Linked DNA regions of Homo sapiens: regions 2, 3 and 4 are each linked to region 1. The links come from fine-mapping of genetic effects on gene expression. A gene starts in region 1. Each other region holds a variant in brackets. All regions are shown on one strand. Distances are from middle to middle. Region 1 holds the start of SLC39A11 (solute carrier family 39 member 11). Region 2 overlaps SLC39A11 (solute carrier family 39 member 11). Region 3 overlaps SLC39A11 (solute carrier family 39 member 11). Region 4 overlaps SLC39A11 (solute carrier family 39 member 11).

Evidence for each region.
Region 2: its variant is fine-mapped to the expression of SLC39A11 in whole blood (TOPMed, PIP 0.98).
Region 3: its variant is fine-mapped to the expression of SLC39A11 in whole blood (TOPMed, PIP above 0.99).
Region 4: its variant is fine-mapped to the expression of SLC39A11 in cerebellar hemisphere (GTEx, PIP above 0.99).

What each region holds. Positions count from the first base shown.
Region 1 is chr17:73,089,457-73,095,677 of GRCh38, forward strand. SLC39A11 (solute carrier family 39 member 11) reads right to left here and starts at 3,232. Exons shown (of 10, transcript NM_139177.4): 1 at 3,155-3,232. RefSeq lists enhancers at 189-689, 690-1,190 and a silencer at 2,161-2,392.
Region 2 is chr17:72,831,568-72,837,788 of GRCh38, forward strand. The region is part of intron 6 of SLC39A11 (solute carrier family 39 member 11); the gene reads right to left. Among named protein-coding and RNA genes, the nearest start is that of LINC00511, 190 kb to the left of the region's middle. The variant A/G (reference allele first, on the strand shown) is at 3,658.
Region 3 is chr17:73,057,888-73,064,108 of GRCh38, forward strand. All of the region lies in intron 3 of SLC39A11 (solute carrier family 39 member 11), which reads right to left. Among named protein-coding and RNA genes, the nearest start is that of SLC39A11, 32 kb to the right of the region's middle. The variant T/C (reference allele first, on the strand shown) is at 3,501.
Region 4 is chr17:73,028,621-73,034,841 of GRCh38, forward strand. It overlaps SLC39A11 (solute carrier family 39 member 11), which reads right to left. Exons shown (of 10, transcript NM_139177.4): 4 at 2,936-3,094. Among named protein-coding and RNA genes, the nearest start is that of SLC39A11, 61 kb to the right of the region's middle. The variant C/A (reference allele first, on the strand shown) is at 3,388.

The sequences.
Region 1 (6,221 bases):
ACATTTCCAGCCATCAGAACCCGGAGCACCCTCTGCAGCCCACATAATGCCAACCTCACGACCAAGGCTTTTCTGGCCTTCCCCAGCCCTGTCCTAGCATGCAGCTTTGGTCCTCTCTCAGTGTGGCTTTGCCTCCATCTTTTACAGCCTTAGTTGCTTGAGGACGGGGACGGTGCTTTTTCACATTTGGCACCCCTGTAAAATAGGGCTTTGTAACCCCTGAAAAATATGTGCTGGATGGAAAAGGGCCAGCTTACCTGCACAGGACAGTCAGCAAGGACAAGCAAAAGGACCCAGGAATGGAATGTCCCCTGGTCAACTCAGCACCCTGCTGCTGAAGCTGAAGTTACACCACCGCCCACCAAGGAAAGGAAGGGAAGTACCACTCCCTCTCATTTCAGTCCAGAGAACCTCCTCCAGACTTTAACATGCTTAAAATTCTGGATCTGAGATGACAATCAGATCTCTCCCTGTGGAAAGTTACAAGGCAGAGAAACCCATTTGTTGAAAAGCCCTGTGTTCTGGTACACAAACACTGGGCTCAGGGCCTCATATCAAAGCCTCATTCATCTCCCTGATGGTCTGCCAGCACCCAGAGGGCTGGCTGGACACAACCACACTGGGCTCAGCCCTGCCAGTTCCCGGTGCTCTGTGAGGAGCCAGCAGCCCTGAGCCTGCAGATCAAGAGCTGAAGACGCTGCCTCGATTGACCCTGGAAGGAAACCATGGCAGAGTGTGGACGCAGCCCTTATGCCAAGCGGCTCAGCAACACACCCAGGCTCAAACCTAGGAAGGGTATAGGTCCAGGTGAGCCCAGGTGAGCCCTGGCTCAGCCCCTGTGCCAGAAACTCTGAGATAAATAGCATCTATGGAATCAGACTCTAGTTCCCGCACTCTAAACGAACTGCACCAACTGTGAAAACTGTGACCACGCCAATTAAAGAAAAAAAAAATCATTTTCAAAAAACTACTACCCTTTACATCCGTCATCTTGCTAAGCCACCCTAAAAAGAGGGGTTGGTCTTTGTTTTTAAACCAAGCCATCTGGACCATTACACCAATCATCTATTCCGAGTTGCTGTGGACAAAATTTCAAACAGCATTTACAAAGAACAGCACAAAGGGATCATCCTCTTAGTACTTATCATCCAAGACAGGGCATAACAAAAACACCTTTCTTTCCTGTATTTGAATGTGCCTCTTGACAGCTACAGAAGAGAGCAAACAATTTACATTTGCCAACAGGCCAAAGTCAATGTGGATCTTGTGGGCTGGTGAACAGAACAGAGGGAGCTCGTGGGTGTTCCTGGTGGTTAGTGGGATAGGGAAACACCCGTCTAAGCCTGTCCCCATGTATATCTGAGCACCCTCCTGAGTAAGAAAAAGGGACACAGAGGGAAGACCGAGGCCACCATCCTTTCCATCCCAACAGGAGCAGCATTGATCACGGGCAATGCAAGCCCAGTGCCCCTCGGAGAAGTTTCTTCTCTATTTGCTGTTTTAAATCCTCGCTACAAGGGTGGTCAGAGAACCAGCAGCACTGGTCCGGCTTGGGAGCTAGTTAGGAATGCAGAAACTCAGGTCTCACCCCAGACTTTCTGAATCAGGGTCTGCATTTTGTGGAATTCCATGGGGGATTCTTATGCACATTAAACTGTGGAAAGCAAAAGATTAAAACTGGTAAAACTTGGCCAGGCGCAGTGGCTCATGCCTGTAATCCCAGCACCTTGGGAGGCCAAGACGGGCAGATCACCTGAGGTCAGGAGTTCGAGACCAGCCTGGCCAACACGGTGAAACCCCATCTCTACTAAAAACACAAAAATTACTTGGGCGTCGTGGTGTGTGCCTGTAGTCCCAGTGCCTGTAGTCCCAGCTACTCGGGAGGCTGAGGCAGGAGTAATCGCTTGAACCCGGGAGGCGGAGGTTGCAGTGAGCCGAGATCGCGCCACTGCACTCCAGTCCGGGTGACAGAGCAAGGCTCTGTCTCAAAAAAAAATAAAAATAAATAAATAAATAAAACTGGTAAAACTTCTACAATACCAAGAGCTTAGAAAATGAGTTCTCCTGCCCCATGTGGGATTGGCAAGAGCAAAGAAGAGTCCCAAAAGAACAGAAAGTTTTCTGCAGAGTCTCAAGAGAAGAAAAAGTTTCTGGCAGAGTCCCAAGAGAACAAGAAGTTTTCTCTAACCGGCAGACCAGTAACAACTTTAGGACACAGCATCTCCATCACAGCTTACACAATGGGGCTCAGAATTCCTCACGATGGGGATATTAATTCCATCAACCCTGATTCGTTAGCAGCAGGGAGAATCATTCTCTGACCGTTCCAACTTTTAACATGCCAACAGCCTGTAGACTTGTACACACCTGCCACAGCAGCACATGGGCATTCCCGGCTGATTGATACAGGTTTGTTTTCTTTATTTCCTTTCTCCCCCTTTTAAACCTGTTGTTCCGCTTCCAAGAGTCAGTTCAAGAGGCTGGTGAAGTTGCAGAAGTGGAAACAGCACTAGGGCTGCTGGGCCTTAGTGGAGCTGCACACACATGCCCTAACTCCACGAGGGGGAATCCAGCAGAAGGATTCAGGTCTGGGCGGAGAGGACTGTGGAAAAGTTCTCTAATGCCTCGCTACTCAAAGCGTGGTCCGCGGACCACCCAACCTGGGAATTAGTTAGAAATGCACACTGTCACGCCCCACCCAGACCTGCTGCAAGTTAACCAGATTCCCAGTCAAGTTCCAGAGGTCCAGCTAACAGCCAGAGCAAGTGGGAGGGGCCTGGGAGCAGCTGGATTTGTAGCTGCCTCTGCTCCCAGGAATCCCGGGTACCCCCACACACCGCCTAGGAAGGGACGAACGAAGAGGATTTGGGTTAGGACTGTAAAAGGAAGGCATGTCATTGCCTTCCAGATCACCCTGGAGAGGGACATAGCCGGGGTCCGGGGACTTCCTTCCCACCGCCCCTCACCCTCCCACCCCGCCCCGACACCTGCCAAAGCCTCCAATTTCTCCTCCAAACCCCTCCTCTCTCCAGGCGTACCCCCTTCCAAGCTCCAGGTGGCTGCCCTTCCAAGTCCCACACTCTTGTCCTGATGGCCTCCGACCCCGGGCCTCGAGCCCAACCAAAGGCACCGAAGGAGAGAAAAGCCAACTCACTAGGGTGCCCTCTCCAGCCCCCACTGCACTTCCATCAGCCCCCGCTGCCACTCTCTCGCCGGCTCCACTCCCGCAGTCACTTCCTGCTTCCCTCCCGCACACGTGGCCCTCCCGCCTCCGGGCCCCGCCCCCTTGGCCGCAACTGGCAACTCCCGCCTGAAGAATAGATTCTCTGGTTCACAGCCGTCTGCAGGCTCAGGAACAGATCTGGGCGGGCAGAACAGAGCCCTGAGGCCAAGAGCCCAGCAGTCTGCGAGTGACTGCAGCCCTAAGGGAAGCTACAAACACCCAAGGAAAGAGCCCTTTGTAACACCCCTGATGTTACTTATGCTTCTACACCTTTGGCAGCCAGGTCCATGCCACTGGGTGCGCAGCAGAGCAGGATGTGCTGTGTGTGTGTTGCGGGAGAGGCTGGGGGCGGGTAATGTGATGGCATCGGCATCATTCTCCAGTCAATGACCCTCAAAAGAATCACTGGAGGGGGTCAAACACAAAATGCCAGCACCCCCAGAGGCTCTGGTTCCGTCATTCTGGGTGGGGCTGACATTTTGGGATTTTTTTGTTTTTGCTTTTGTTTTTTTGAGATGGAGTCTCGCTCTTTCGCCCAGGCTGGAGTGCCGTGGCCCAATCTCGGGTGATTGCAGCCTCTGCCTCCTATGTTCAAGCGATTCTCCTGCTTCAGCCTCCCGAGTAGCTGGGATCACAGGTGCATGCTGCCAAGCCCCGCTAATTTTTGTTTTTTTTTTTTTTTTTTTTTTTTTTTAGTAGGGACGGGGTTTCACCACGTTGCCCAGGCTGGCCTCGAACCCCTGACCTCAAATGATCCACTCGTGTGGGCCTCCCAAAGTGCTGGATTATAGGCATGAGCCACCGCGCCTGGCCTGAGATCTTGTTTTGAGCTAGGAGTTGCTGATGCTGCTGTCCTGGGACCACCCTTTGAAAAGCACTGCCCTAGGTCAAAGGCTTTGATCTGCAGGATTTCTGTGAAAAGACCAGAGGATAGGATTGACTAGATTTAGCCAAAAACAAAACAAAATAAATAAATAGATAGAAACAAGATGCCTGGGCTGGGCGCTGTGGCTCACGCCTATAATCCCAGCACTTTGGGAGGCCGAGGCGGGCAGATCACAACGTCTGGAGATCGAGACCATCCTGGCTAATACGGTGAAACCCCGTCTCTACTAAAAATACAAAAAATTAGCTGGGCGTGGTGGCAGGCGCCTGTAGTCCCAGCTACTCGGGAGTCTGAGGCAGGAGAATGGCGTGAACCCGAGAGGCCGAGCTTGCAGTGAGCCAAGATCACGCCACTGCACTCCAGCCTGGGCAACAGAGCAAAACTCCATCTCAAAAAAAAAAAAAAAAGCCTGATTAAATTTGAATTTCAGAAAAATAACGTCATTTATTACTATAAATATGCCCCGGGCAATGTGTGGGACATACTTATGTTACAGGCATATTTGTTGTTGATCTGAAACTGAAACCCAGCTGAGTGTCCTGTGTTTTATTTGACAACATATCAGAGCGTGACCTGAGCAGAAAAGCTACCCGTGGTCTCGATGGCCATAGCCCAAAGGGTCCAATAACAGGCCTCTTTCTTCCAGTGGAACTAGGTTGTTCACACTGACGGTCGCACCATATACCAAGCACTCCATGGGGAGGAGAAGACAGCCTGGCCACTGGAGGGTGGTCTTTGCCCTTAAAAGACCCCCAACTTGGAAGAGTCAAATCAGCCATTGCAATTCCACATAAGAGAGTATGTACAGGCACACAGAGACACAATACCCATGTGGCACGGCCCATCAACTCATCTTCCAAAATGTCATACCTCTTCCTGCACGCTGCAATAGCCATAAAATGACACAATATCTTAGACTCACTTCAAAATATGATGGAAGAGAAAAGTGGATGGAGTAGAGATTAAACAAAATTGGCCATGAATTAACCATTCTTAGGCTGGGCATGGTGGTTCACACCTGTAATCCCAGCACTTTGGGAGGACAAGGTGGGCAGATTGTTTGAGCCCAAGAGTTTGAGACCGGCCTGGGCAAAAAAGCAAGATCTCGTCGCTACAAAAAGTTTTTAAAAAGTAGCTGGACATGGTGGCAGATGGTAGCTGGGCCTGTAGTCCCAGCTACTAGGGAGGCTGAGTGGGGAGGATCACTTGAGCCCAGGAGTTTGAGGCTGCAGTGAGCCGTAATGGTGCCACTGCACTCCAGTGAAAGACCCTGTCTCTTAAAAATAAAAAATTAACCATTGTTGAACCTGGGGAACGGGCACGTAGAGGTTCATTAAATGTTTCTGTTTCTACTTTTGTGGATGCTTAAATTCTTTTCTTTTTTTTTGAGACGGAGTCTCGCCCTGTCACCCAGGCTGGAGTGCAGTGGTGCAATCTCGGCTCGCTGCACCCTCCACCTCCCAGGTTCAAGTGATTCTCCTGCCTCAGCTGGCCTCCCAATTAGCTGGGACTACAGGTGCGTGCCACCACACCCAGCTAATTTTTTGTATTTTTAGTAGAGACGGGGTTTTGCCATGTTGGCCAGGCTGGTCTCAACCTCCTGAGCTCAAGCAATCCACCTGCCTCAGCCTCCCAAAATGCTAGGATTACAGGAGTGAGACACTGCGCCCAGCCGCTTAAATTCTTTATAATGAAAAATAAACAGAAATGTTTACAACGATCCACAAAGTGCCTCTCCTGCCCAATCCTTTCTCTCCTTTCTCACTGCTGCTGTGAGGATTCAACCTGCCCATCCCTCATCTAGGTCATGGAGTCACCTCCTTCCACTCCACCCTGTCTAGTCTGTTCCATGTAGCACCGCCAAGATCAGCCTGCCTAAAGCACAGCACATCACACTCTCCTGCTCAAAAAGCTCCGATAGCTCCCCAGTGCCTTTGGCATAAAGTTCAAATGCTTCAGCCTGGAATTTGAGTTTTGCTGTGGTATGATTCCAACTAAACGTTCTCAAGTCTGTCTCCCAGGGTTCTCCTCCCTGTGCCCTCTGGCCAAGCCAGGCTGGACAGCTCGCTGTCCTCCACACAGCCTTCCCTCCCTGCCACTCCTATCTCCCTT
Region 2 (6,221 bases), 260 kb before region 1:
ATTATAGATTCTGACTCCCAATGCTTACTTACCATTGATTCTGGAAAATGTGGATGGTCTAAATTGCTATCGTAAAAATGCAATTTCCCAACTTTATTTCATCCATGAGCTTTGAGTTCATTTCTAATTAAATTTTTTCAGTAGCCCATCAACAAAACAGATCAGTTTGAGATTCTTCTCCTTGTTCATTCTCTCTTAAAGAGAATTATTAAGAAGAAGCATCCGAATTCATTTTTGAGCCCTCATTTGATTTCCATTTACCATCTCTGTGTTGCTGAAGCTGTGGAAGCAACAGTCTCCATGGCTGAGAGTAGAGCTTAAGTTACGCAGATGGGCTGCAAAGATTAATTGCCATTCTTAAAGACGCCGATAGAACTATGAAAAATAAGTAGTAATAGTAGTAGTAGGAAGAAGAGGAGGAGAAGGAGGTTGGAGAATAGGGGAAGTTACCATGCTCTAGTAAACTGCAAGATGTTGGCATATGACAAACCTTGGTACAAGATATAAGACAAAATGAAATGGGATCGAGCGTATAATCCCTGTGGCTACTAACTACTGCATTAGTAGACAAAGCAACAATTAGGATGAGCCGTGAATGAGGATGTGGTGCTGTCCCTTAGGGCAGGTAATACCCAAAACATGCAGCCATACACTTGTCTATTCTCCAAAGAGCTGAACCACTGAAGAAATGGTGGTCTGAAATGGCTTGGAAGTCTAGGTGTTATTGGGAGCTTGGATTCGTCACGAGCCCCCTAGGGGCTTCACACACATACTGATTTTGCAGACTTCTACCCCCTCGAATATTCTGTGGAGAACAACCTATTTTTTTCTATCCTCTCCCAAACCGCCATGCTGAGCTCATCGCCTCTGAATTTATCTCCGTGTCAAGGAGAAGATGACAGCCAAAAGTAATACATTTTGTTTAAGTCAAGTCATGACACATCTATGCCAAATGGAGAACTCAGCTGGCAATTACCACACTGAAAAGTGGGACAAACAACAGAGCAAGGAATAGACCTAGAAGTACATTTAGGTGTCATTTCACCCACTGTATTTAACCAGAGAAAGAAAAAGAAAATGGAATTTTGATTTCAGAATCCAACCTTGGTTAATGGTTATTTGCAGAAAACTAGAAACATTTTAATTATTTTCAACTCCACACCATAACAGCTATCAAGGGAATGGAGACAAAACAAACAGGGACTTATTAAATACATAATTAATGTGCACTAAAATTCGCATATATGAATATGAGTAAGCTGGGACCATTATAAGGTATGCAACTGAAACGTGATCAATTAATTAAACCTGTTATTTGCTGGGGCTTTGGGAAAAATGGGGCCACCTCAACAGAGGAGGGAGACTCATCAGCAGATGAGATGGCTCCTTGGTGGTCCATCCTGCTTGCAAAGTAGCCAGGTATTTCAAGAAACAAAAATCTTAGAAAAGCTACAATTTTCTTTACAGTGAAGCAAAAATAAATCAAGCCCTTGTCAATCAAGACCTTAATCAAGACCATTGTCAAGCTACAAATAGATTACTTTATTCCCTCTTGCCTGGTCTCCAGTCTCCATTATAATCAAATAAAAATACTTTTCAGGCACTGCATCTGGTTTAGAAATATAGTCTGTGGCCAGGAAACAAAATGAAGAAAACTGGCAACACAGGAATGAAATCACTTGTAGCGATTATTAATAACCGTCCTCTTTTGAAATGGATTAAAGTGCAGTACAACAATAGGTTATAACATGGAAGAAGAATTCAGATATTCAGATATTCAGACCTTAAGAATGCACTTTATCCTTATCACAAAGCAGCAAATGAAGTGCTGTGCTTCCTAGCAGCCAAAGAATAAAAAAAGGTCTACACGATCAATGTCTGTCATTCCCACAGGGAGGCAAAGCTTTTCCAGGCAGTGTATTCTAAAAGTTTTATCTAGAGGCATTGGGGGATGAACAGGACAATGGCTCTAGCAGAAAGCTGACAATAAAGACTCCAGTGATTTTCATCTGACGGTTAACATCCTTTCTTTCAAACCTGAGTTAAGTCACAGGAGGCTGTTCTGTGAGAGGGGCTAAGCTGACATAGACCAATGATGTTGGCTTGGGCTGGGGTGAGGAGAGGTTGTCTACTGGCAGATAACACATAACACCAGAGGACAAGATGATGAGCTACTATTTCAGCCCTTGTGCAGCTCCTTCCATCCCCCGACATCAGACATCATGATGCTCTCGAGCCTGCTACACAAGTCCCGGCACAACTCGCAACCCACTTCAGTCCCCAACTCAGGAAATAAGAAAAAAACTCAGAACCAACAGGAGCAAGAGAATGGTATCACAGGATGACTCTGCAGCATCCTGAATTTATCAGAAACAATGTGAAAAGGCTGACATTTAAATTATTTTATTCACAATATATGTAGGACATACCCCATGACTGAGAACAGCTCTCTTACACTGTCTTCCAGAAATGGAACTCCTCCCAAGGCAAGCTTGGGTAGGCACTACACAACAAACAATTTGTGAAGTTACTTTTTTTTGCTAAGGGTCTAGTGCAGTGTCATCCAGTAGAACTTCCTGTGATCATGGAAGCGTTCTACATCTTGTGTTGTCCAACACAGTAGCCACTAGATACAAGTATTTGATGTGTGGCTAAGTCATGCTAAGGAGCTAAAGTTTGCATTTTATTCCAGTTTAACTCATGTAAATTTAGAGAACTACAGGTGGCCAGGGACTATGGAATTGGACACAGCAAGTCTAAAAGATCTTACTAGGCTGGGCACGGTGGCTCACGCCTATAATCCCAGCACTTTGGGAAGCTGAGGCGGGTGGATCACCTGAGGTCATGAGTTTGAGACCAGCCTGGCCAATATGGTGAAACCCCATCTCTACCTAAAATACAAAAATTACCTGCGCATGGTGACACACGCCTGTAATTCCAGCTATTGAGGAAGCTAAGGCAGGAGAATAGGTTGAACCTGGGAGGCGGAGGTTGCAGTGAGCTGAGATTGCGCCACTGCACTCCAGCCTGGGCCACAGAGTGAGACTCCAACTCCATAAACAAAACAATAAAATAAAATAAAATAAAATAAAATAAAAGATTGTATTAAACCATGTTCTAGCCAATACCTGGCCATGGGAGAAAGACAACTGGAAGTTATTGGAAACTTTGCTTCCTAATACAAAAATGTATTCAAATTCTCTTGCTTTAGTTTTCTCTTTAATTTACATAATAGGTAGGAGGATGGCATAATACAATCGACGTGGAAATGAGTCTTGATTTTAACCCCAATCCTAGCGCAGCATTAGACTTTCACTCTGGCTGTAGCTTCCTTGATCTGAAGGCCAGAAAGTAGGGCTCAGGCATCTGCGCGTCTGTCGCCTGTGCAGGAGATGACAGAATGTCTAAAAGTTTCCCTGCCACTTTTATTTGGGATCACGGAGGATTCCCAGAGTTGTGATTTTGCCCTCTGGGCGTTGGTGCCAACTCTCATGCTCAAATCCAACAGCGTCATTTAGAAGTGTGCTACCGGCTTCTGCCTCAGTGCACACCAGGAACATGATATGTTGAGCAAAATGTCATCCCATGTAGGAGCCTGTGCTAATTATAATGTCAGGCTTCCCACTGAGATACTGATAATTAAAGGAGAATATTACA[A/G]TGTTTTCAAACTCCTGCAGTAAATGAGAAGCATCTTCAAATGTAACCTGTTGGAGATGAAAATTAAAGCCATCTGTGACGTCCCCATTTAAGACCTCCACAACCAGAACCAGACAATTTTTGAGGATCAAAGCAAGTTGAAGGCAAAAGTAGGTGGGTGGTAGAGTTTGGGGGAAGAGGAGGAGGTGGAGGGGAATTAATGTTTTCCAGGTCCTGCTGTGTTCTAGGAACCACAATACTCTTTATTTTTTTATTGAGACAGGTCTTGCTCTGTCACCCAGGCTGGAGTGCAGTGGCACAAGCACGGCTCACTGCAGCCTCTACCTCCTGGGCTCAAGTGATTCTCCTGCCTCAGCCTCCTGAGTAGTTGGGACTATAGGCATGTGCCACCACGCCCAGCTAATTTTTGTATTTTTTGTAGAGACGGGGTTCTGCCACGTTGCCCAGGCTGGTCTTGAACTCCTGAGTTCAAGTGATCTGCATGCCTCGGCCTCCCAACGATACACTCTGAATAGCAGATAACACAGTGGGTGGCCCTGCTTGTTGCTACTGCTGTCGTCTCAATAATGAACTGCCAAGTAGCTATTATCTGCATTTTACAGCTGGGAAAGCTAAGACTCTCATGATCTCACCTAAGGTTACCTACCTAGTAAAGCATTTGGTGGCTCCAGGATCCAAGTCTTGGCCTTTCTGCTCTAAAGGTTGTGCTTGTCCTATGCCTGTGGGCGACCACCTGCTTGGGTCCTGGAGCATCAGTGGTGGTGATAGGTGTGCAGGGGCCTCACAGGCATTCATTTTACACATCTCCTAGAGCACCCACAGTGGTGGGCCCTGTGTACGGTGAGGCTTCCTGCCCAGGTTTCCCTGCCCAAGTCTCCTTGCTGAACTGAGCCCGATGCATCTGGAGTGAGAACTACGCCAACGTGGTGCTGCAGACATTAACATTTAATGTGGCAAGCTTAAGAAAAGCAAGAAGCATTTCCTGAACTTCTCTGTAACTCTCTCTGAAAAACAGTGTGATCCACGGGAAGAAAAGAAACACAGAGCTCACCAGTGAGACACAACACACGGAGACAGAGTGTGAGTTAAGCTGTACCCATCATTGCTTGTGTGGCCTCGGGCTTTTTTTTTTTTGAGACAGGGTCTCGCTCTGTTACCCAGGCTGGAGTGCAGCGGCACGATCTCAGTTTTCTGCAGCCTCCACATCCCAGGCTCAAGCGATTCTCCTGCCTCAGCCTCCCGAGTAGCTGTGACTGCAATCACGCGCCACCATACCCCACTAATTTTTGTATTTTTTGTAGAGATGGGGTTTCCCCACGTTGCCCAGGCTGGTCTTGAACTCCCAGGTTCAAGCGATTCACCTGCTTCGGCCTCCTAAAGTGCTGAAATTACAGGTGTGAGCCACCGTGCCTGGTCTTGGGCTTGATCTTTAAACTTTCTAGGTCTCAGTTTCTAAAATGTAAAACAGGGACGCAAATATCTAAATCATGTATGTGGTGCACTTTATACAGCGTCTGGAACCTTGAAAGGCCCCCGTAAGTGGCAGCCTTTAGCATTATTGGTATATTTTATTATGGTCAATGATGCATGCCTTTGTGTGGTGTTCTGCTTCCTCATTAACTGAGCCTGAGTCGCCGGCTACTGAGAAGGCCCCTCCAGTTTCTGGAAGCAGAGCAATGTGAAGCAGAAGCTGTTGCATCACGGTTTCTCCTGGAAAGGTCTGTACCTAACAGTAGAATTTTCTGCTCAGTCTTTACCCCAGGAAAATGAAAAATCAACATGTTCTTTCTCATGGCTAGTAGCTCCTTTCTTGCAAGTCGGGGCCCTGGTCTCGCACTGCTGCCCCTCCAAAGCCACCCTTTGCAGCACGGGGAGACTGCACAAGGGCAAGCTGAAGGTCCAGGCTCACATCACCAATGTCAGCAGCAGCAGCCTCCCTGGCCACCTGCAGCTGTCCGCAGACTTTTCAGCATTCCAACAGATCCTCCATATTCCACACAAAATCAAAATCCACAGCAACTGCCACCTCGTTGGAAAGCAGGGCTCAAAAAACAACTTTATTTTTCTCCTGTCTATTGACTTGGAGGAAAATTCACTAGATTTTTTAAAAATGTACTATAAAAATGTATATTGCTCAAAAAAAAAAAAAAAAAAAAAAGCAGGACTCATAGACACCCCAAGCAAGTGCCATGGTAGGTGGGACAGAGATTATCCCTTTGTGTCAAAGGACTCTGCTGGATGGAATGAATGGGAAGGAACTTAACAAAAAGAACTGGCTTCAAAGAGTTCAAAGGTTTCCATATGACCCAGCAATTCTACTCCAAGGTATGTACCCAAGAGAACACAGGTCCATACAAAGACATAAACACACATAGCAGCATTACTTACAACACCCAAAAAAGTAAAAACAATCCAAATGTCCATCAAGTGATGAAACAGTAAACAAAACACGGTGTATCCATAGAATAGAGTATTATCTGGCCAGAAAAAGAAAGACTTACTGATACATGCTACAACATCAACGAAACTTGGAAGCATCATGCCAAGTGAAAGAAACCAGACAC
Region 3 (6,221 bases), 32 kb before region 1:
GATCGTGCCACTGCACTCCAGCCTGGGGGACAGAGCAAGACTCTATCTCCAAAAAAAGAAAACACAGGCTGGCTTGGGAAGCTGCCTATCTTTAGTTATTTTAGTTATTTCGTTTTAGACTCTTTTTTTTTTTTTTTTTTGTAAAAGAAATTTACTTCTGTGGGAAAAGTCTCCATTTGTGGGGTGTGTCCCTCTTTGCACCCTAAATCACTAGAAACTTTCAAAATGGAGAAGGTCAAGACTTAACTTTGTTTCACAGGCCTTGCCTTTCACCATTTTGTCTTCACCAGGCTTGCGTGTTTGTTTGTCTTGGCAAATAATACTATTTTGGCCTGAAATCTGGTTATCAGGCTAGCTGACAATCCCTGGGGGCAATAATGAGTAATCGAAGTGTCCTCTGATTTAACCCCCTTGCTAGAATGAAAACAGTCGGGGGATAAAGAAAATATCCGCAGAGTAAATGCGGAAAAGATAGATAGGTCCTTGGAAGAATGGATGATGGGCCAGCTGGGGTGGCCTTCTGATCTCGTCTCCTGTGATAGGAGTTAATCTTGGCCGGGTGCAGTGGCTGACATATGTAACCCCAGCACTTTTGCAGGCCCAGACGGGCAGATCACCTGAGGTCAGGAGTTTGAGACCAGCCTGGCCAACATGGCGAAACCCCCTCTCTACTAAAAATACAACAATTAGCCAGGCATGGTAGCAGGCACCTGTAATACCAGCTCCTAGGGAGAAAGAGGCAAGAGAATTGCTTGAACCTGGGAGGTGGAGGTTGCAGTGAGTCGAGATCGCACCACTGCACTCCAGCCTGGCTGACAGAGCGAAACTCTGTCTCAAAAAAATAAAAAAGGGTTAATCTTCAGAAGACTGACGCAGTTGAGTTCCTTTTGTAGGATCTGTCTTTTGGCAGATGAAAGAGAACTCAGGAGGCCTTGCCCTGTGTTTTGCCTTCAACTCAAAGTAATTAATATACCAAAAATGTGACTACCAAAGCAACACATTTTGGGGTGGCATTCCCTGAATGCTTTCAATGGCTAGTTTTGTTTAGTGAGCAATTAAATAATAACTGTTAAAAAAAAAAGAATAAATTAGGTGAATATGGACAGCATAAAAGTTTATAAATGAATTTGTCATTGTTTCAAAAATCTTTTGCAGCAATTTGGAATTTTAAAGTAATAGATATTTATAAAATGTCTGAGTCATTTCTTAGTTAAAATACTAGAACATTAACTGCTAAACATAAGTTTCAAGTATAAATACTTTGGCATCTTGGTTTTGTACAATATAGAGAAGCTGAATATATTTGGGTTTGTTCATAAACATGAAAACATTGTTCTAGGAGGAAGCACATATTTCTAGAAATTACAAATGTATATTCATGAAATGTTAGTATATAACAGTTTAAAATTGTTTTACTTCTTATGTTTTCACTAGAAATTGAGGTTAGTAACAGTTTAAAATTCTAATCAATATAAGCTAGTGAAAACTGGAAATAAGCCCAGGCATAGTGGCTCACGCCTGTAATCCCAGCACTTTGGGGAGGCTGAGGCAGGCAGATCACCTGAGGTCAGGAGTTCGAGACCAGCCTGACCAACACGGTGAACCCCTGTCTCCACAAAAAATACAAAAATTAGCCGGGCATGGGGGCGGCTGCCACCTCAGGAGGCTGAGACAGGAGAATCACTTGAACCTGGGAAGCTGAGGTTACAGTAAGCCGAGATCGCGCCATTGCACTCCAGCCTGGGCGACAAGACTGAAACTGTCTCCAAAAAAAAAAAAAAACTGGAAATAATATGGGAAACAACTCCATATGCAAGGAAAAAAAAGATATGTTTTTGTTAAGTGAAGCTATGAGGTATGAAATATGTGTCTTTGTTAAGGAAAAAAAGAGTAATTTTCACCCTAACGTAGAATGACAGGTTGCCCCAAAATGAGAAAGAGGGAAGGTATAGATAGGATAAATAAAAAACTGATGGAATATAAGAAGGTTGTAGGAGGTTTGTGGACGGTGAATCATGTGAAAGAAATTTTATTGTGATCAGCAGGGCGTGGTGACTCACCCCTGTAATCCCAGCACTTTGGGAGGCTGAGGCAGGTGGATCACCTGAGGTCAGGAGTTCAAGACCAGCCTGGCCAACATGGTGAAACCTGTCTGTACTAAAAATACAAAAATCGGCCAAGCATGGTGGTGGGTGCCTGTAATCCCAGCTACCTGGGAGGCTAAGGCAGGAGAATTCGCCTGAAGCCGGGAGGCAGAAGTTGCAGTGAGCCGAGATCACGCCACTGCACTCCAGCCTGGGCAACAAGAATGAAACTCCATCTCAAAAAAAAAAAAAAAAAAAAGAAAGAAAAAAGAAAAAAAAAGAAAACAAGGTAAAAAAAAAAAAGTTGGGGGGTTTCTTTACCTTTTAGGAAACTGGCAAAGGAAATGAAGACTGCGTTCTACCAAAATAACTTTTTGTCCTTCACGTTGTCTTTATCAGGTTTTTGATAACTATAGAAAACTATTAAAGAGCTAAGGTTTTTCCTCCAAATATGTTGCTTTTTATATTCACCTTTGAAGTCTTTATCACTCTGGTTAAATTAATGACTATTATTTCATAGTTACTTGTGATCCCATTTTGATGAAATGTTTTAAACCTTGGTGATATTTAAACCAAAATCAAACTCTAAATTTAGTCTTTCTGACCAAGAATTAACTTTGGGATTCTCTTGCTGGGCCCTGAGAAAGCCTCAAAGGATACATCTCTCACCTTGTAAAGGGGAGATATTATACGAATTAGGCTTATTTAGTATACTAAATTATATGGGAAGTACTGTCAAATAATAAGTAATGCTGAACCTTCTTTGAATTTTACTCATATGTGTTCTAGAAAATTGTTTACAATTTTTAGAAATTTGATACGTGATCAGCCATAATTTCAGTTATTATGTTAAATGGTTGTATTCCACAGAAACAACTAAATTTCCTTGTCAATTGTGTCATTATTGAATGAAATTTCAACAGCTCTTTAACCATGGACATTTTAAGTCCTGTCACTCACAGACGGTTGTTTGCTCGGTACTTTCCTAAGCAACTATAAGCCTATATAGTTTTGTCTTCAAGGAGGCTCACGGAAAAGATTCTGACAAGTACAGGTTTGTGATTACTTTAAGATCGTATCATTAAACTGGGTAAGAATTCTCAGAACTCACCGAGCGTGGTGGCTCATGCCTGTAATCCCAGCACTTTGGGAGGCCAAGGCAGGCAGATCCCAAGGTCAGGAGTTCGAGACCAACCTGGCCAACATGGTGAAACCCCGTCTCTACTGAAAATACAAAAATTAGCCGGGAGTGGTAGCAGGTACCTGTAGTCCCAGCTACTCAGGAGACTGAGGCCAGAGAACCGTTTCAACCCAGAAGGCAGAGGTTGCAGTGAGCTGAGATTGCACCACTGCACTCCAGCTTGGGCAACAGGGCAAGACTCTGTCTCAAGGAAAAAAAAATTCTCAGAACTCGTA[T/C]GAAGAAACTCACTGGTTCATAAAACTGTTAACCCACCATCAAAAGAACAAGAATTACTTAAATGCTAAGTCAGATTTTCATGCTAAGTCAGTTGATTGTGAAATTGTTAAGATATAGAAGCTGAATGAACTCCCTAAGATTTATCCAAGTCAAATCACCTATGATGACCTATTCATTGGACAGGGTTATGCATCTTAATTGGAGAAATAAAACTTGTACTTGAAAGGATGTAAATTCAACATTAAGCGTAGACTCATAGAGGGCTTAGACAACTACTTGGTCTTTTCTGAGTCCTTAAAGCTTCCATTATTAAAAGTTCTGTGCAGGCTGGGCAAGTGGCTCATGCCTACAATCTCAGCACTTTGGGAGGCCAAGGCGAGTGAATTGCTTCTGCTCAGGAGTTCAAGACTAGCCTAGGCAACATGGTGAAACCCCATCTCTACAAAAAAACACGAAAATTAGCCGGGTGTAGTGGCCCAAGCCTGTGGTCCCAGCTACTCAGGGGGCTAAGGTGGGAGGATCACTTGAGACCAAGAGGTCAATGCTGCAGTGACCTCGTGTGATCACGTCACTGCACTCCAGCCTGGGTGACAGACTGAAACCCTGCCTCAAAACAAAACAAAAAAAATCCTCTGTTCCATGACTCTTCATACCACAGACAAAATGAAACAAATTATGGAAAAATAATGGTGTGGCGACTGTTCTAGAATTACTAGGATGGTTTGTAACCAGTGAGTGCTTAGTTTGTCAAACTCATAATCCTGGAAAGACAATCAAAACTTCAGATGAGGCCGGGCGCAGTAGTTCATACCTGTAATCCCAGCACTTTGGGAGGCTTAGGCAGGCAGATCACATGAGCTCACAAGTTCGAGACCACCCTGGGCAACATAGCAAAACCCCATCTCTATAAAAAAAAATACAAAAATTGGGTGTAGTGATGCATGCCTGTAGTCCCAGCTACTTGGGAGGCAGAGGTAGGAGGATGGCTTCCACTTGGGAGGCAGAGGAGGTTACAGTGAGCTAAGATTGCACCACTGCACTCTAGCCTGGGTGATAGTGCCAGAGCTTGTCTCAAAAAAAAAAAAAAAAACTTTAGGTGATACACTTCTGCTACCTGATAGGCCATTTGAACATCTACAGAGGGATTTCATTAAATTGCCACCTTCAATAGGATATCAGTATGTCTTGCAACAGTTTGCATGTTTCCTGGTTGGATAGAAACTTTCCATGTAGAAAAGCTAATGCTATGACAGTAGCAAGGAAGTTATTACAAAATTTATTTCCTTTATGGCAGTGGTCTCCAACCTTTTTGGCACCAGGGACTGGTTTCGTGGAAGACAGTTTTTCCACGGATTGGGGGTGGGGGATGGTTTTGGGATGACACTGTTCCACCTCAAATCATCAGGCGTTAGAGTCTCATAAGGAGACCGTAACCTAGATCCCTTGCACGTGCAGTTCACCATAGGAGTTGTGCTCCTGTGAGAATCTAATTCTGCTGCTGATCTGACAGGAGGAGTTCAGGAGGTAATGAGAGCAATGGAGAGTGGCTGCAAATACAGATGAAGCTTTGCTCACTCACCCGCCACTCACCTCCTGCTGTGTGGCCCAGTTCCTAACAGGCCACAGACCAGTAAGTCTTGGGGGCCTGCTGGGGGTTGGGGGCCCCTGCTTGAGGAGACATCCCTGTCAAAATCTCTAGTGACACAGGAATCCATTTGGACAAATTATAAAAGAGTTAAAATGTTAGAAGCACAAGGTACTAGCATTGTCTCTATCACCCTCAGTCTTTTGGAAAGATAAAAATGACAAAAGGCATTTTTAAAAATGAATTTGACGAAGGTAACTGAATCAATTGGATTGACTTGGCCAAAGGTACTACCGTTAGCACTAATGGCAATCAGATCCATTCTCACTGGGATATACAGATTGACCCCTTATGAAATAATTACTGGAAGGCCTACGCTGCTAATAGAACCTCATGTATCTTTCACTCTTATAAACTCTAATATAATTAAATGCTGCAAGACTTTAACGAATTGTGTCAAAATGTATTTTCAGAGGGTAAAAGAAGCTTTTCAAGGCCAGGTGCAGTGGCGCGTGCCTGTAATCCCAGCTACTCTAAAGGCTGAGGCAGGAGAATCACTTGAACCCGGGAGGCAGAGGTTGCAATGAGCCGAGATCGTGTCACTGCACTCCAGCCTGGGTAACAGAGCAAGGCTCATCTCAAAAAAAAAATTAAAATTAAAATTAAAAATAAAACCTATGGCCACAAGATTATTGCAAGGGTCAGATGAGGTAACGGATGAGAAAGTGCTTCAAAAAGTATAAAGCAATAAACCAATGTCACATAATAATATTTGGGGCTCCTGAGCCCATAAGATGCAAGTGTTCGCTGCCATCAGCCCATGGATACTCTCCCCCACACAGAAATCTTCATGCATAATTACAAAGTGTTCAGCAAATTCACGTCTGTAATCTGTTTAAAGTTTATGCACAGGCAATGACCGTGTGTCCCTTCCTCCATCTTAAATACAATACTAATCTGGTTTCCCCTTGTTTATGCATTTAACAGGTATCTAATTTTTCCACACTCCTGGAGAACTAACTCATTTAGCTCCAGGGCTGTCTTGGTTGATTTCTCTACAAGAAGACCAGCGCCTCAGAAATTGACAGAGGTTTCCAAAGAAATGCTACAGCAAAAAAAAAAGGAAATAAAAAAA
Region 4 (6,221 bases), 61 kb before region 1:
CTGACCTTTCTGCCAAGTAGTGAGGTTCTGGGCATTTGTGGTGATGATGTCTGTTTCTGAGCTGCTGCAATCCCTCCCCAGACATTCACCAGCTGCTCCCAAACCATTACTGATTCTATCCAGGGCTTCCCTCTGGGATCTCCTCCATATTCAAAGCATATATTAGAACAAATATGAACCAAAAGGTTTAAAAAAAAAAAAAAAAACACTGCTGCAGCCGGGCACGGTGGCTCATGTCTATAATCCCAGCACTTTGGGAGGCTAAGGTGGGAGGATCACTTGAGGTCAGGAGTTCAAGACCAGCCTGGCCAACATGGTGAAACCCCATCTCAACTAAAAATACAAAAATTAGCCAGGCATGGCAGCAGGTGCCTGTAATCCCAGCTACTCAGGAGGCTGAGGCAGGAGAATCACTTGAACCCAGGAGGTGGAGGTTGCGGTGAGCCAAGATCACGCCATTGCACTCCAGCCTGGGTGACAGAGTGAGACGCCGTCACACACACACAAAAAAAAATTACTGCTGCATAGTGCAAATTAGCCAATGACTGTTTACACCGCCCAGAGAAAATCCCTACATTCAGACAGCTGACCAAATACATCTGATACCGCCCCACCACCCCTACTCCCCAGTAACATAGTAAGACCCACAAGGATTGCAGAGTCCTTTCCAAGAGACTATCTTGGAAGCCCAGTTGGGTGCAGGAGAGAAGAGTAGAATGGGATCCAGCAGGAGCCATGCAGAGCCACTGAGCCAGATCTCTGCCTGCTGCTCAGGGATTGAAGCCACTGGTCACCTGTCAGGGCAAGCAGAATACACTCCAACAACAAGTTCACACAAAACCAGGGTGGCCTTGAGATCAGAATATGGCAGCCTGCATTGAGGGCCACTGGACGCCACTACCACACATAGTCGGCAGCAAGGAAGCCACATGTCCAGGGGACGGAGACAGACACGGCCACTCAATCTTTTTTTTTTTTTGAGACAGGGTCTTGCTCTGTTACCTAGGCAGGAGTGCAGTGGCACCATCTCGGCTCACTGCAACCTCCACCTCCCAGGTTCAAGCGATTCTCATGCCTCAGCCTCCTGAGTAGCTGGGATTACAGGTGCGCACCACCACACCCAGCTAATTTTTGTATTTTTAGTAAAGATGGGGTTTCTCCACGTTACCCAGGCTGGTCTCTAACTCCTGGCCTCAAGTGATCTGCCCGCCTCAGACTCCCAAAGTGTTGGAATTACAGGCATGAACCACTGTGCCCAGCCATGTCACTCAATCTTTTAACAACAAAAAATGACACATGGTCTTTAAGACAGTGGTCCCCAACCTTTTTGGCACCAAGGACTGGTTTTGTGGAAGACAGTTTTTCCATGGACAGGGGCCGGGGTAGGGGGTTGGGGATGAAACTGTTCCACCTCAGATCATCAGGCATTAGTTAGATTCTCTTAAGGAGCACGCAGCCTGGATCCCTCACATGCGCAGCTCGCAGCAGGGTTTGTGCTCCATTGAGAATCTAATGCCACGGCTGATCTGACAGGAGGCGGAGCTCAGAAGATAAAGCTCACTTGGCAGCTGGCTGCCCACCTCCTGCTATGTGGCCCAGCTCCTAACAAGCCATTGACCAGTAGCGGTCCTTGGTCTGGGGGGTTGGGGACCTCTGCTTTAAGACAGTATCACAGCCGTCCAACATCACATTCAGCTGTCTGATCCAAAGGACAGTTCTTCTGTAACACAAGGAATCTGTTTTACATTAGCCCAGGACCTAGAGGCATAGTTCCTGGGAATCGTTATAGTTACAGAATCACCCATCATTCCTTCTCTTTCTCCACTTGGGAAGTTAAGGAAAAAAGAAAGCAGGAAGGCAGGGAAGAGAACTTCAACCTACCTACCTCCCGGGGTACATGACCACTGACTCCAGTGAGTCTGACTTAATCCTGTCTCACCGTGATCCAGCAGGAGAAATGGACTTTGACCCATTTCTCTCCAGAGAGTTCTCCCTGCACCACTTCCCTTTCTAGGGGAGCAGGGAACTCTGGCACCAGTTCAGGGGTGCTTCTGCCATCTCTAGAACTTGTCGGGCCCAGTGTCTGGTAAGGCTGTCTCATGCTGTTATGATCTTGGACCCCTTTCCTCTACTGACAGTGGTGCATGCAGATGACAGGGCTTTAGCCAATGGCTTGCGGTTCCCATCGCATGACCTGGCCCCAGCTCTCTTGGCTCGGTGATCACAGCCACATGCCAGGCTGCGGTTTGCACGGTGCTTCCCTGTAAGCACATACATGCTCATTCCCAAATCCAGCTCTCCTGCCATATGTCAGTAAAAAAGCCTGAAATCTCTGGCTTATCCCCAATTCCAGTGCATTTTTACATTTTTAAAATTTTACTGTACAGTCCTTCGGGGGAGTTATCCTCAAATTAAAGGATGGAAAACTAGAGCTCAGGGATATACAATCAGTAAATGGCAGGTGTGAGCTCCAGCCCAGACCCCTGCTGCACAGAGCCCTGCCTCACCCTCCTGTCAGCCCTCATAATGTGATCCATGGTCAAAGGCCTAATGCTACAGATTGTGGGGGTGGGGCGGGAGTATCATCTCCCTGATGATGTCATACTCTCAATAAAACCCAGCACCACAGTGATCGTTCTAGGTCCTCTCATATATATACAGTGCCACCCAGCACATCAGCTGTACTCTATATTTTTAATGAAATGTGACATTCAAAATCCGAACTTACTAAAATGTAAATAAGGGGGTAATTACCAAGACATTACTTTAAGAAAGAAATCACCGATCAGTTCCTCTAATGCCTTGTTCTCTGTTTAAATACCACTGGCTACTTAACAGAGACATTAACAGGTATGTCAGGTTTGATCAGAAATAAATTCATTGCACAGAGCTGGTTGTATCCCGATACGACAGCTAAAAGTAGAGTGGTACTCACCAAGTGAGGCATCAGGAGGTCAGCCAAGTAGACAAAAGCCGCTCCAAGGGTGAAGCCAACAGCCACAGGGAAGAAGGCAAAGGCACCGAAGCCCCCAGAGGACGTGGCCATCTCAACTGCTGGGGCCAGAAGAGACCAATAGGAAGCTGCCAACATGACCTACAAAAACCACAACGAGAGATAAACGTTAAAGCAACTGCAGAAGGCTTTCCAGGCAGGACCTCAGTTGCTCTCTGTGGCCCAGATTGACCCCTACAATTTCACATGAGTTCAGTCTTTCGTCCCAGGTTGGGAGGTACTATCAGAAACCAAAAAGCCATCCCCAGAATTCCCGGAGCTTACTATTGCAAGAACTCAATTTTGGGTAGGATAGAGTTGACCTTGGGAGGATGCAGTCCAGTTCGCCATCATCTAGCCTATAATTCAGTGGTTCTCAACCAGCAATGGTTTTG[C/A]CCTCCACAGGACATTTGGCAATGACTAGAGACATTTTTAGCTGTCACACTGGGAGGAGCGTAGGGGGAGGTTGCTACTGGCATCTAATGAGTGAGGCCAAGCATGCTGGTAAACAACCTACAATGCACAGCACACCCCTGACAACAAAGAATTATCTGGCCCCAAATGTCAATGAGAATGCTGTTGCGAATTCCTATTCTTTTTTTTTTTTTTTCTGAGATGGAGACTTTCTCTGTCACCCAGGCTGGAGTGCAGTGGCACAATCTTGGCTCACTGCAACCTCCACCTCCCGGGTTCAAGTGATTTTCCTGCCTCAGCCTCCTGAGTAGCTGGGATTATGGGTGTGTGCCACCACAGCCAGCTAATTTTTCTGTATTTTTTAGAGATGGGATTTTGCCATATTGGCCAGGCTGGTCTCAAACTCTTGAACTCAGGTGACCCACCCACCTCGGCCTCCCAAAGTGCTGGGATTAAAGGTGTGAGCCACCATGCCCAGCCCAAAAAATCCTATTTTAATTAAATTCTTCCAAGACAAATTGCTCACTACTTCACGAGTTCCACTGTATTGTAACACAGGTCTAATTATTACAAAGTTCTTTCTTATGTTGAGCTGAAATCTGTCTCCTTTCCACTTTTACCTTTTAGCTGTGGTTTTGCTCCCTAGAACACCAAAAACTGTGTCCCTCCTGTGTGATATGTGACAGCCTCTGAAATATCTGAAGATAACCAGCAAGTCAACGTCATATTGGTCTCATCAATTATCTCTAAAAAGGACGAAGGGAACTAATATTTATTGATCACTTGGTATTTCCAAGGGCCAAGATTTACATTTGATATCTTATCTTTTCATCACAACCACCCCAGAGGCAGATGATGTTTTCTATTGCGATTTGTAGATAAAGAAATTGGATCTTGAAATAATAAGGTAATTTGCTCATGGTCCTACAGGCCAGCGGTCCCCAATCCTTTGGGCACCAGGGGCCAGTTTCATGGAAGACCATCTTTCCACGGACCAGGCAGTGGTTTTGGGATGAAACAGTTCCACCTCAGATCATCGGGCATTAGAGTCTCATAAGGAGCTCACAACCTAGATCCGTGGCATGTACAGTTCACAATAGGGTTCACGTTCCTATGAGAATCTAATGTCGCCACTGGTCTGACAGGAGGCGGAGCTCCCGCGGTAATCCTCACTCACTTGTCCGCTGCTCACCTGCTGTGCGGCCTGGTTCCTAACAGGCCATGGATCAGCACTGGTCCATGGCCCGGGGATTGGGGACCTCTGCCATAGGCAGTAAGTAGCAGATCCAGGGAAATGACCAAGCAGGACCATAACCAACTCAATGACGGTAGAAACATGAAGGAGAAGAAAAAAAATTAGGCTAGTCTCAAATCTCAGCAAAGTCAATTCAATAAAAGGTTCTCCAGCAGATGAGCTGGCACAGTGGTGCATGACTATAGTTGCTGGAGATGAGCTGGCGCAGTGGTGCATGACTGTAGTCCTAGCTACTGGGGAGCCTTGAGCCCAGGAGTTCAAGGCCAGCCTGGGCAACATAGCGAGACTCTGCCTCTTAAAAATAAGAAGCTCTCCAGCACTGACCAAACTAAACACTCATCCATGGCTGTTTACTCTTACAGATGCTATGACATCTTTTGGCTAGAGTACACCCACCACCCATCGTAACTATACGGCAGTCATCGCCGACACAGAAAATGTTGAATGGGTTTCTAAAAATTACTTAATTATGCCTTGCCTTAAAAAATCATCTGCATCACCCATCTTCAAAATAACACTCAGAGTGACAGAAGCAGGTATTACAACAGCAACAATAAAGAACAAATCCAAGCATAAATCCATAAATTCCCTTCTTCCAGCTGTCAAACATGCACAGTCACTTGCTCTGGGCCAAATTCTCCCAGCAAAAGTCTTAGTGCCACCCATGGAAACCTGCAAAAGCCTCCAAAACTCTAAGAATGAAAATGCCTCTGCTCAACAGGATGGGAGCTGAGGCTGATCCGTTCAACTCCATGAGCCGGGCTGTCAATAAAGACCATCAAAGGAAATGTGAGGGCTCCCCCTCCCTGCTACAGCCTAATCCACCCCTTTTCCAGACTTTGTCTTACTAGCTTTAGAATTCAACAGCCCTCAGTAGCTGCCCTGCATGGTAAACTCCCCATCGAAGAGGACCTGCAACAAGACACAGAGATGGAAAGGTGCCCGTTCTTCTTTGCATTTTTTGAAACAGAGTCTCTGTCACCCAGGCTGGAGTGCAGTGGTGCAATCTCCGTTCACTGCAACCTCTGCCTCCCAGGTTCAAGCAATTCTCCTGCCTTAGCCTCCCAAGTAGCTGGGATTGCAGGTACTTGCCACCACACCTGGCTAATTTTGTATTTTTAGTAGAGACAGGGTTTTGCCGTGTTGGCCAGGCTGGTCTCGAACTTCTGACCTCAAGTGATCTGCCTACCTTGGCCTCCCAAAGTGCTGGGATTAAAGGCGTGAGCCACTGCTACTGGCCCAATTCTTCTTTTTAAACCTGACCTGTGCAGCAGCTTCTCTGGTTCTCCCATACGGTCCCACCTTCAACAACTCTAAAACCACATGGCCCAAGTAAGCCCACTCATCTCACCCTCTAAATCCTCCCCACCCTGCACTCCGATGAAAAAACATAACATCGCTGTCAGCATCACTTGAGAGACGTCCCCAACCTCTGCTCTCATCTCCTTTTCAACCCCAGGTCCAAACTCTTCTGTCCACATTTCCTTCCATCCCTCTGCATCACTGAGTACCAACCTTTTTTCTGCCCTTACACATGAGAAGCACACAATCCACAAGCTA